Homo sapiens: one gene and its partners. The protein of the gene in region 1 interacts with the protein of each later gene in a pairwise test. Each region holds a gene or a part of one and is shown in the gene's direction. Other genes may lie near its edges.

The links.
Region 2: the proteins of WDR4 (region 1) and ZMYND8 interact in a two-hybrid assay, tested with the Homo sapiens proteins (one large-scale study listed by BioGRID and IntAct).
Region 3: the proteins of WDR4 (region 1) and REV3L interact in a two-hybrid assay, tested with the Homo sapiens proteins (one large-scale study listed by BioGRID and IntAct).

Annotation. Positions count from the first base shown.
Region 1 is NC_000021.9:42,866,025-42,869,674, reverse strand, and holds part of WDR4 (tRNA (guanine-N(7)-)-methyltransferase non-catalytic subunit WDR4), read left to right. Parts: intron 1-3,650. UniProt on the Homo sapiens protein: Non-catalytic component of the METTL1-WDR4 methyltransferase complex required for the formation of N(7)-methylguanine in a subset of RNA species, such as tRNAs, mRNAs and microRNAs (miRNAs).
Region 2 is NC_000020.11:47,350,126-47,353,775, reverse strand, and holds part of ZMYND8 (MYND-type zinc finger-containing chromatin reader ZMYND8), read left to right. Parts: exon of another isoform or gene 1-771; intron 772-1,035; exon of another isoform or gene 1,036-1,215; intron 1,216-2,026; exon of another isoform or gene 2,027-2,066; intron 2,067-2,497; exon of another isoform or gene 2,498-2,582; intron 2,583-3,650. UniProt on the Homo sapiens protein: Chromatin reader that recognizes dual histone modifications such as histone H3.1 dimethylated at 'Lys-36' and histone H4 acetylated at 'Lys-16' (H3.1K36me2-H4K16ac) and histone H3 methylated at 'Lys-4' and histone H4 acetylated at 'Lys-14' (H3K4me1-H3K14ac).
Region 3 is NC_000006.12:111,368,119-111,371,768, reverse strand, and holds part of REV3L (DNA polymerase zeta catalytic subunit), read left to right. Parts: intron 1-3,650. UniProt on the Homo sapiens protein: Catalytic subunit of the DNA polymerase zeta complex, an error-prone polymerase specialized in translesion DNA synthesis (TLS). Lacks an intrinsic 3'-5' exonuclease activity and thus has no proofreading function.

The DNA of each region.
Region 1 (3,650 bases):
TTTTTTTCCATATCCTATGTTTTTCCATTGGGGTGTTGTTTATTTGTAGGAGCTCTTTATATTTGGACACTTTAGTTTTACAAAATAAGCCCATCTCCCAAAGTGTGGCTCTCAACATGGCCTTTCTCACACGGCCTTTCTGTGGCACAGGTGTGTAAGGTGAGCTGCACCGGTAACCACTGAGACTGGATTAGCATTTTCCAATACCCTTGCCTTAGCTGACAAAACTTCAAAGCCCTGGGGTCAAGAACAAGTGCAGAGCTGAGATCCACGTGCCGATGTGTACACGGATCTCAGACGTGATCCAGTTACTTAGACAACAGTGGAGTGTGTGGGTTCCCGTTCAGCTATGGTGAGTGGGGTTGTAGAAGTTGGGAGTGAATTCTCACTTGTCTGCTTCCCCTGGAGTACAGTTCGGTGTCCTCTCATGCTACCTTTTGCCTTTTTTATCCTTTGGTTTTGGTCCGTACAGAAAATTGGAAACCACTGAGAAGTACAAAATGAGAGCAAGAACAAAAACCACCCTGAATTTCACCACCCAGAGCCAGAGTATGGGATGAGCACTGGGGCCAGGCCCTCCTCCTCCTCTCTGCAGATGGATTACAGGATTTGCATGTGTTACACTGTAGTGGTGGCATGTGCTAGCCTATAGCCTGTTCCCCCCCGCCAGGGCAGTGTTGACAACACTGTGTCATTCCCTGTAGCTGAGTTGTTACATTGTTTGCACTGTTCCACTGCTCAAATGCTAGTGTTTCCTTGTACCTCTTCCTGCCTTTAAACTTCGGGAAGTTTGAGCCAGAGCAACTGGGACAGCAGAGGTGTGGACAGTGTGGGTTTACTGGCACCAATGTGTGACAACAGACACGGCGAAGCTTCCCAAGCCTTGGTGTCCAGCGGTTTCCTTGGGGTTGATCACATGCTGTGGGGGTGGCTGACTTTTAGTTCCCAGCCCCTCCAGAGGTGGAGTGGACACCTTGTGGCCCCAGGCCCCTGCCCTAAATCACGTACTTAGGCTGCCTGTGGGGCCCAAGGCCCCTACTCTTGGAGATGAGGCCAAAGGCAAGGTTAATTCTTCACTATGCAGAGGGTGTACCCTGTGCCAAGGCTTTTGATGTCTGGTACCAGACACCATTTGAGGAGTAGCCACTGCCTGCAGAGGGTAGGGGAGGCTGGGTCTGGCCGTGTGTGCCGTAGGCCTGGCTGGTGGTGGGGGTGAGCGGGCAGGGAGCTCACTCGTGTCTTGAAGACGCTGACTCTTTCAAGTCTGGACAGTGCTGCGGCTGTGAAGTTCTGAGGTTGCCAGAAAGATGGAGACGTGGGTGGAATGTCACCTTACTTCAATGTGAGCTTGCTGTCCAGAGGTAGTGTCTCACTTTGAACTTGGGAGAGAGGGGATGTCCAGTCTGCCTGCCCGCTGTGTCCTGGTTCCTAACAGTGGAGCTTCTTCACCCTGATGGAAGCGCGGAGGCCCAGGGCTCCTCCAGGGGTTCTGACTCCTCCAGAGGGACGGGGCCTCTGCTCCTGGCATCGTGCATGGCCCAGAGGAGGGAGGAATCTAGAATTCTCTCCACTCAATGTGGTTGCCTGTGGCAGTTGGCTTCTTGGAGGAGGTCATTTGAGGTTGAGAGCTCCATGAGTTGGGACTCGTGGTGGATGCAGATACCGCTGCAGGCTGGGCGGGTGGGGGGCCTCTTCATCCTTGGTTGTAGGTGCTTTGCCAAGAGGGAGATGTCTTGCTGTGTTGACTCGTCTTTTGAAGGTTGTGTGCTGGTGTGATTCTCTTTATGGAAGCACCTGGTAAAACTCTGGGAGGCTGGCATGGTGGCTCATGCCTGTAATCCCAGCATTTTGAGGGGCCAAGGTGAGAGGATCCCTTGAGGCCAGCAGTTCGAGGCCAGTCTGGCCTCAACATAGTGAGATCTCGTATCTACAAAGAAAAAAAAAAGCACAAGTCCAAGAGTGGGCAGTGCATCTAGTTTAAGTACCCCTAATCTGAAATTCACAATCCTCCAAAATCCGAAATTTTGTGAGCATAGGGAAGATGCTCAAAGGAAATGCTCACTGGAATGTTTCGGATTTTGGATTTTTAGGTTAGGGATGCTGAGCCAGTAAGTATTTGCAAATATTCCAAAACCTGAACAAATCTGAAGTGCAAAGCACTTTTCGTCCCGAGCATTTGGGATGAGGGATGGGCAGCCTGCAGCATGTGAGCAAAGAGCAGTGTTTGGCTCTTGGCAGTGCCCCTTTACCTGTGCGTTCACTTTTTTTTTTTTTTTTTTTTGGTGGAGCGGAGTGTCTCTTTGTCACCCAGGCTGGAGTGCAGTGGCACGGTCTTGGCTCACTGCAACCTCCACCTCCTGGGTTCAAGCGATTCTCCTGCCTCAGCCTCCTGAGTAGCTGGGATTATAGGAATGAGCCACCACGCCTGACTAATTTTTATATTTTTAGTAGAGATGGGGTTTTGCCATGTTGGCCAGGCTGGTCTTGAACTCCTGACCTCAGGTGATCTGCCCACCTTGGCTTCCCAAAGCTCTAGGATTAGAGGCGTGAGCCACTGCGCCCGGCCTGCTCTTGGTTTTGAAAGTGATGTCAGCAGTATAACTTCGTGTAGGAAATGTTTGCCTTAGGTGGTGTGGAAGATGGACCATGTGATTTGATGCAGTCCAGGCAGCAGATTACAAAATCCCGCCTCGATGGTGTGGCTTGGGGTTTCTCCTGACCTTGGTGTAGGGCACGCCTTGCTGCCTCCCCTTTCTCTAGTTGAACTGCAGGACAGTGGGTACAGTTGTGAAGTTACTGCCACTTTCAACATCTCTTGGCAAATTCCTCAATAATCTTTTTAAAATTCCTTTAGAATTGTGGGTTTGTGAACTTTTCAGCATCGGGTGGAGTGAAATTGTTACCCTTTCTCTCAGTGAGAAATTGGAGGGGATTATTGTGGCAGGAGGAGTAGGTTTGGGGGATGCGAGTGGGGCAGGGAGAGGGGCATAGGGTGAGTTTTATCAGGAGCTGCTTTCAAGGAGAGGACTAGGGTGAGTGGAACCATGCTGAGCTGGCAGGCAGCACCCTGTGGCTGGTCCGCAAACATGGGGGCTGCTCCCCACACCTGGAGGCTTTTTATGCCTCTTAGATCTCAGACTCTTAGATCTGATGCACCCGCTCCCCAGAAAACCGCCCACGCTTAGCACATCCACCTCCATTCAGTTTTAGAGGTTCCATGTACTCCTAGCCTCTCTGCATTTCACTGAGGCCCTGCACCGCTGCAGGATGCCCCTGAGCTGGGCGAGACCCTAGGCTCTGTCCCATGGTTGCTTTGTTACTGTGCTGCTGCTGGGAAGCTTCCTGTTGAAGGGTTTTGAGGCGTAGCCAAGATGGAAGTTGTGGGCAGCAACGATTCTTTCCCAGGTAGCAGTTTAGAACCGCAAGGGACGGAGGGCCTGCCACCTGGGCAGTCAGGAGACTCTTGGCCCGAGGGACTGAGGCCAGGTTTTCCAAGCCGAAGATGAGGACACAGGGTGACGAGTGATACATTGATTTTGACATGTGTGTTTATGAGGGAGAAATCCTCCCAGTGGAGTCTGTGTTTCCGAAAACAACTGTGAGAGCCACGGCAGCACGTGGGAAAGGCAGAGCCAGAGAACCATCTGATT
Region 2 (3,650 bases), on another chromosome or scaffold:
TCTCTCTGCCACGTTTGTAAATTGCAGAAGGAGGAACAGAATGTTGGGCTGTTTTCCTTTTTCCTTCTGCCTCCTCAGTCCCCAAAGAGGATACACAGCTGCAAGGAGCAAACACAGACACACTGAAGCTTTTGATTCCTCTCCTTTTTTTTCCTTCAAGACCCTCCAGGATGGATTCACTTTCTGCTTTGGGAAATTAAGTGGCATTCACGTGGGGGAGGGGGAGTAACTGCTTTTATTAGCTCCAGAAAATGGTCAGTGTTCAGTCTGTAACTAGGAATTAATTATATATAATCACTCAGTAAACTTTCTACAGAGTTTTTCTAATTGCTGAGCCTGATCATAGTTAGCCCGTTGGCGCCAAGTCCAGTTACTTTTATAATTAACAGCTCAAAGATTTGAGTCAGAAAGAAACAATTGGGGGCCTCTTGGATTATAAATTAGGGATGAAAACAATAGCTTTTTTTCCTTTCTTTCTTGTCATCCCTTTTATTTTCAACAAAACATTTCCCCTTTTCTTTCCCTGGGAGAACCAGTGGGGAGACTGCATCAGGTCTTAAATAGGATGAGGGGGGAGACACTTTTTAGGAAGTGGGGTGACAGTAACCTAGAAAACCCTGGAGGCAAAGGTAGGTTTTTAAAAGTCCAGCCACTTGCAACGCGTGATGTCTTTGTTTCTTTTGCCCTCTTTCCCCTTCTCTCTCCTGTGGCAGAGGCAGCAGACATTTGTCAGCCTGGGAACCCTCAATCTGGCTTTGCCTCTGGTTGACTCTGGAAAGAAAGATACATTCAAAGGGGCCTTCGCTACTGCACAGCAGAGATTTAAAAAGGGAATATGTTTCAGAACCCTTTGGTTACTCTTAAAATGCAAGATCTGAGCAAGGGTTCACCCTTGGCTTCAGGTTGCTAAGGTTATGGTCACCCTCCCCGCTACTTCCCACTCTCCTTGCAGACAAACAAACAGGCAGTGGCCATGCCAGCTCTGCAGCCAGTGTGCTGCCAGCCTGTCCCCCCCATCCCGATTACCTTACCTACCGGCCGGCGGGGGCCAGTGGCCCGTCCTTGCCCTGGCATGGCCTTGGGCACTGTGCCCTCCTTTCTCCCCTGGAGCTAAAAAGCAGTCACCTTGAAACTCCTCACTCCCAGCACCAGAGGAGTTCTGAGGCCAATGCTCAGACCTGTAACAGTAAATGACGTTATCCACTCAGGCTGTTAGTTCGGCCTCTGAAAGCGGGTTTTGCAAAACCCATTGTTAATTCTCAGGCTCTGTTGGGGGTGGTCAGAAATCTAATTTGTGAGTATCCTGTGCATTGGATAAGGGAATGTTTTCCTTGTGTTTCTCCTCTGCAGACTCGGATTGTCTTTCCTTGATGTTAACTGTCTTAGGACTGGCTGCTTCAGAGGGCTGGGTATTTGGTGGCTGTTTGCAGGCTTATAAACAGCCTTTTTATTTTACCTTTGCCGTAGACTGAGGTGCAGCCCTTTAGCTTGGCTTTTCAGATGCCTGCTGTCCTTGAAGCACTTTCATTTTACCTAGCGCCTTTTTGGTATGGATGCAAAGCTGGTTTCTAATAGACTGAGAAGAGAAGGGGGACCGGGCTTCCTCCTTGCCTTCCCCCAGGCTGCTCCCTGGGAACATTTTTGTGTTTGCACAGACACCTGTCCGTCTGCAGTTTGTGCCACGGGGCTGCACGATTCCTAACCTTCTACCCACCTAATTTGAGGGCAAGGGGGCCTCATCACAGAGCCTCATGTTGAAGGCTCAGGATCTACAAGAGAAGGCTTTTCCTTAGGAACCTGTGACTTCACAAACTCTCCCTGTCATTGCAGAGTTTTTTTTAAGCTTCTAAACGTTGGGTTGTTGGTGTCCTTTGGTTCAGCTTTTCCTAGTTCTGGTATTTAGGAAGGTGGCTTTGAAACTCGCAGGGCTGCTTAAACAAGAGCTACAGCTATTGAACAAACTGCTACCATTTTAGCTTCAACACAGGAATGAGGCAGTGTTGCCAGACGCCATTTTAAGAATCCTGCATAAATAGCTTAGCTACCGATGACTCTGCCTGTTTTAGGTGAGTGCTTATATAAAGCTGCTCTGCTAACCATTCCCCCCCACCCCAATTTCTTAAAAAATTAATTGTAGATTTAGGGAAGCATGGTTTTTAATTTTGATGTTCACTATTTTGTAATCTAGAAGAGGAAGATGTTATGCCTTGGGGATTAAATATTTCTTACAGCCTGGACCATTTTGGTATTTTGAATGAAAAGTAAAAACCAGGAAAAGTCCTTTCGAATGATGCATGATTCTTGAATTGCTGTGCGATGATCCTCATCTGTAGAACCAGAGTCTTGTGCATGTTGGTTATATATTCTAGATGGCTTAGATACTCTTCTTTAAAAGTCAAATAGTAGGGGCACTTGGGGAAAAGAAATATGTGGGCATTGTGTATTCAGGCATTTTTCTGTCAAAACTAGATGCTTTCTTTTTTCTCTCTCTTGGAAGTGTTGAGGAGATGAGATTCCTGGGAATTACGGACCATCCCTGAGTCCTCAGAATTAACAATCAGAAGGCTTAAAGCATCCTGGAGGTGCAGTAGTTCATCTGCAACTTTTAATTGCTCTTTTTTCAGTGCATGCAGGTTAAGAAGTAAGCATAGGTTTTCTTGCTCAGGCACTGGGGGAGAAATCTTTTATTCTTTTTGGGATGGGATGGGGTGGTCTTGGTTATCTTTGCAGGTACTGTTATTTCTTTGAATTGCCTCAAATGTATCAGTTTGTGAAATCTGCAGGCAAATGACTTGGGTAAATGTGAGTGTAAGAGGTGGTGGTGTATACAATGTATCTAACTAGTTGATGGTGTATTTTCCTATTGGAGTGAGAAATTGTTTGCTTTTCAGCTAATTTTACCCTTTTCTGTAGCGGGCCCCCAGTTTCCTCAACAGACCTTTAAAGGGAAAAAAGTAATGTCAGTTTGAAACAAGAGCTTGTTGTCCCATTGTTTTTGATTTAAATCATCAGGGTTGCTGGAAGCTAGCAGATATGGAAGGAAATAAGCTGTCTATGTTCTAAGACTTTAATGTGTTAATGACAGAAGTTCAGAGTATTTTCTCCAGATGCAGCTGCCTTTTCTTTTTAAGAATTATTTGACTGTTTTTTTTCCCCCAAATGACTGAACAGTTCTTAACCTAAATTGACCAACATCAGTGGGGCAATTCAGACAGGTACAGATCTTTTCTTGCGCCTACTTTTGATGTAATATTCATTTTTTTTTCCTAATAACATACTAGTTCTTAACACTAAATCAAAAAAAAACACACACACACACACAAAAAAACCGAAATCAGTGGTGTAGGAAAAAGGAAGTCCCTTTAGATGTGGCTATTCAAAATGACTAATTTTGCATTCTGGTCTTTGCTTTTGTAAATGAAGTTTTTTTTTTTTTTTTTTTTTTTTCTCCTTTTAATGCATAGACACTGCAGTTTCCTTTAGTCAAATACAAGTTAATTGTGTGTGTGAGTGTGCGTGCATGTGTGTGCACGGGTTCCTTTTGAAAGGATGGTTTGCTGATCTGTGAAAAAGATGGTTTTCTTAAATTGTTGTGCTTGAAATGCTGTGCTAAAGCTGGTGGTGCTATTGCTAAAGTTGGGTGATTATGG
Region 3 (3,650 bases), on another chromosome or scaffold:
AACATGGTGAAACCCTGTCTCTACTAAAAATACAAAAATTAGCTGGACATGGTGGCAGGTGCCTGTAATCCCAGCTGCCTAGGAGGCTGAGACAGGAGAATCACTTGAACCCAGGAGGTGGAGGTTGTAGTGAGCTGAGATCACGCCACTGCACTTTGTTGCCTGGGCAATAAAGAGTGAAACTCCATCTCAGAAAAAAAAAAAAAAAAAGATAGCTGGGCATGGTGGCATGCACCTGTGGTCCCAGCTACTCAGGAGGCTAAGGAAGGAGAATCACTTGAGCCCAGGATGTCAAGGCTGCAGTGAGCTGTGTTCACGCCGCTGCATTCCAGCTTGGGCAATAGAATGAGACTTTATCTCAAAAAAAAAATCTCTTCAGGGAATTGATAGACAAACATGTGAGCGCACGCACACACACAGCAAATAGCAAAATAGAAATCAGAGTACTGGTTTATTTATCAGTAGTTAAGTAGTTATGGTGTATACCACTTTCATCACCAAGTTAGGACATAACTGATGAAAGCTAAATTGGGTAATGTGGCTTAATCCAGAAAGTTTAAATGATGGCTCTTGTTCCTGCCCTTGTGTCCATGATCTCATATACTTAACCAGTTGCAGAGCAGGCAGTTCATTTCAGCCATCCATTCAGAAGCAGAAGAGGATGGCTGGAACTGCTAAGGCAGGCCCTGCCTTAGTCTAAATCTTGGAAAGAGATAGGAAAAGCAGCAGAGGACACACTGCATGTATGCACTGACCTGTGGCAGTACCATGTTCCTGACTCCAGTGGGAAAAAAAAAAAAGAAAGATACAATATGAATATTACACATTTGTTCAAAGCCATAGAAAGTACCACACCAAGAACAAACCCAAATGTAATCTGTGGACTTTGGACAATTATGATGTGTCAACATAGGTTCATCGATTGTAACACATGTACCACTCTGGTAGGGGATGGTGATAATGAGGGAGGCCATGTATGTGTGGGGGCACAAGGGATATATGGGAAACTTCTGTACCTTCCTTTCAATTTTGCTGTCAACCTAAAGCTGTTAAAATATCTTTTTAAAAAAGTTTAAATTAAAAAAACACGACAGTGAATGCCAGGCTTTTACCCAGCAGATTCACAATAATTCCTATAGGAATCCATTTAAGAAAGGGTTGAGAATGTGAAATGATGGATATGTTAATTTGTTTCACTGTAAGAACCATTTTACTATATACTAATATCATATTTTATACCTTAAATATACACAATAAAATTTATTTTTTTAATAAAGGGGTGAGAAAAGGTTATCAGAAATGCAGAATAAAAGTTCTCTCCTGTAATGACTTGAAGTGAAAGGTAGAAATGTCCACCTCCCAGCCCCTTTTCAACACACAGTTTTGTTTAGTACCCACATGGAACTCTTTATTTCACTGCTGGAGCATATGAAATCTGTTCTTTAGACGTTAGTTTCCATCATTTTGGGGACTTTGGTGTTATTAGTAGTGATTATGGTATATTTACTTTTAGTTACCAAACTTTATGTGCTAGTCATTACCTTTGTGTTGTTGTTATTGTCCAACTTTGACACTTGTCCTGCAGCTAAAATAAAAAATAATCATTTTTGAAAAATATTTTTGAAATATGAAACTGTAGGCCGGGCACGGTGGCTCACGCCTGTAATCCCAGCACTTTGGGAGGCCAAGGTGGGCAGATCACAAGGTCAGGAGATCGAGACCATCCTGGCCAACATGGTGAAACCCCATCTCTACTAAAAATACAAAAATTAGCTGGGCATGGTGGCATGAGTCTGTAATCCTACTCGGGAGGCTGAGGCAGGAGAATCACTTGAACCAGGGAGTCAGAGGTTGCAGTGAGCTGAGATCGCACCACTGCACTCCAGCCTGGTGACACAGCAAGACTGTCTCAAAAAAAAAAAATGAAACTGTATATTCAATATAGAAAATTTAGGAAGTATGAAAGAAGAAAAAATAAAAATTACATCATTTTTCCATGTAGTAACAGCCACCATAATATTTTGATGTGTATTCTGTTTTCTTTTTTAAAAAGTATAGTTTTTAGTTTGTTTTGTTTTGTGAAGTGTGATCTTACTATAGTCACAGTATTATATCCAAATTTTTCACTTAACATTATATTGTAAACATTTTCCAAATGAGTTTCTTGAATATTTTAATCGCTGCATATGTTGCATCATGTATATATTATTGGACAGAAAGGTTGTTTGCAATTTTGCCACTATAGATATTATGTATATTATTATGTATGTTAAGAAGATATTAGCATTTTCTTCTTAAAGCATTTCTTGTATTTTGGAGTTTTTCCTTATAGCCCTAGAAGTAGGATTACTGAAAAATTTAAGGCTCTTGATACATATTAGGAGATTTTTTTTCCCAGTGGGTTATAGCAATTACCATGCTGCTGACAATATGTAAGAAAACTGAATTCACCACACCTCACCATTTTTTTTTTTTTTTTTTTTTTTTGAGACAGAGTCTGGCTCTGTCACCCAGGTTGGAGTGCAGTGGCGTGATTTCGGCTCACTGCAAGGTCCGCCTCCCTGGTTCACGCCATTCTCCTGCCTCAGCCTCCCGACACCTCACCATTTTTTATTCTTGACCTCATTATGACTTCTCTATCCTTAGTATTAGAGTTGGGTATGGTCACTTGGTATGTGTATTCATTTCCTTCAACAGCATTAATTCTGTTTCTGTTTTTTCACATTGCCAAGAGTGGATGCAGGGACAGTGCTGGATGCTGGTTATGGAGTTAACTAGTAGGGGCTTAAGTCTTTTCATATAAAGGAGACAGAGTAGCCCTAATGCTCTTCTTTCAGCTTCAAATCTGAAAACATGATCCAGTTAGTGGATTTTACATAGAGAGTGATGGGGACATTTGGGGAATCATGCCCTAAGAGAAGTGATTGAAAAAACTATGAATTAACTTTATATCCATAATAAAGTTAACATGAAGAAGTAGAATTATTTTATGTTGCTGTAGTAAGCAGAAATAGTATCAAGGGATTGGAGAAAGACAGAGGTTTCACTTAATATTTATAACTATTGGAAATGAAACCAGACTGTTTTCATTAGTGATTTCCCACATATTCATGCATTGGTAACATTTAAGCCATGCATCCTGTGGGCTCTGCCAGCTCCTAAGTTATGTCAGTGTTAATCCCTGCCATGGAATGGGAAGAAAGAATTAGAGTAATTTACCTCAGTTGGTATTTTTTTTAATGTTTAAGGGAATTTGAGAGTACGAAGATTCATTTGAATTGACTGGCTTTGTTAAACTACAGATACTGGAGAATATAGGAAGAAGCTATGAATAATATCCAGGGACATAGTATTTGAATGATAAATTCATTGTTTTTATTCATATGTGGTAATAATGGAAAATTTATTTTAAGATTAGGAGAGGAAAGGAATCTGAAAAGTTTGTGTCATCTCCTTGAAGGACAGAAGGCTTCATGGGGCATTAAAATAAAACAAAAAATACCTTCTCTCCCTAAGATTAATGGTACCTTCCAAAGGAAATTAAGTAGTAGTCATATACCTGTGAGGAAAAGCATATTGAGACTAAAGATAGAATGTACCTGCACAATATAGAGGGGGCAGGGAAGATAGACATGGACATTTTTGAGACT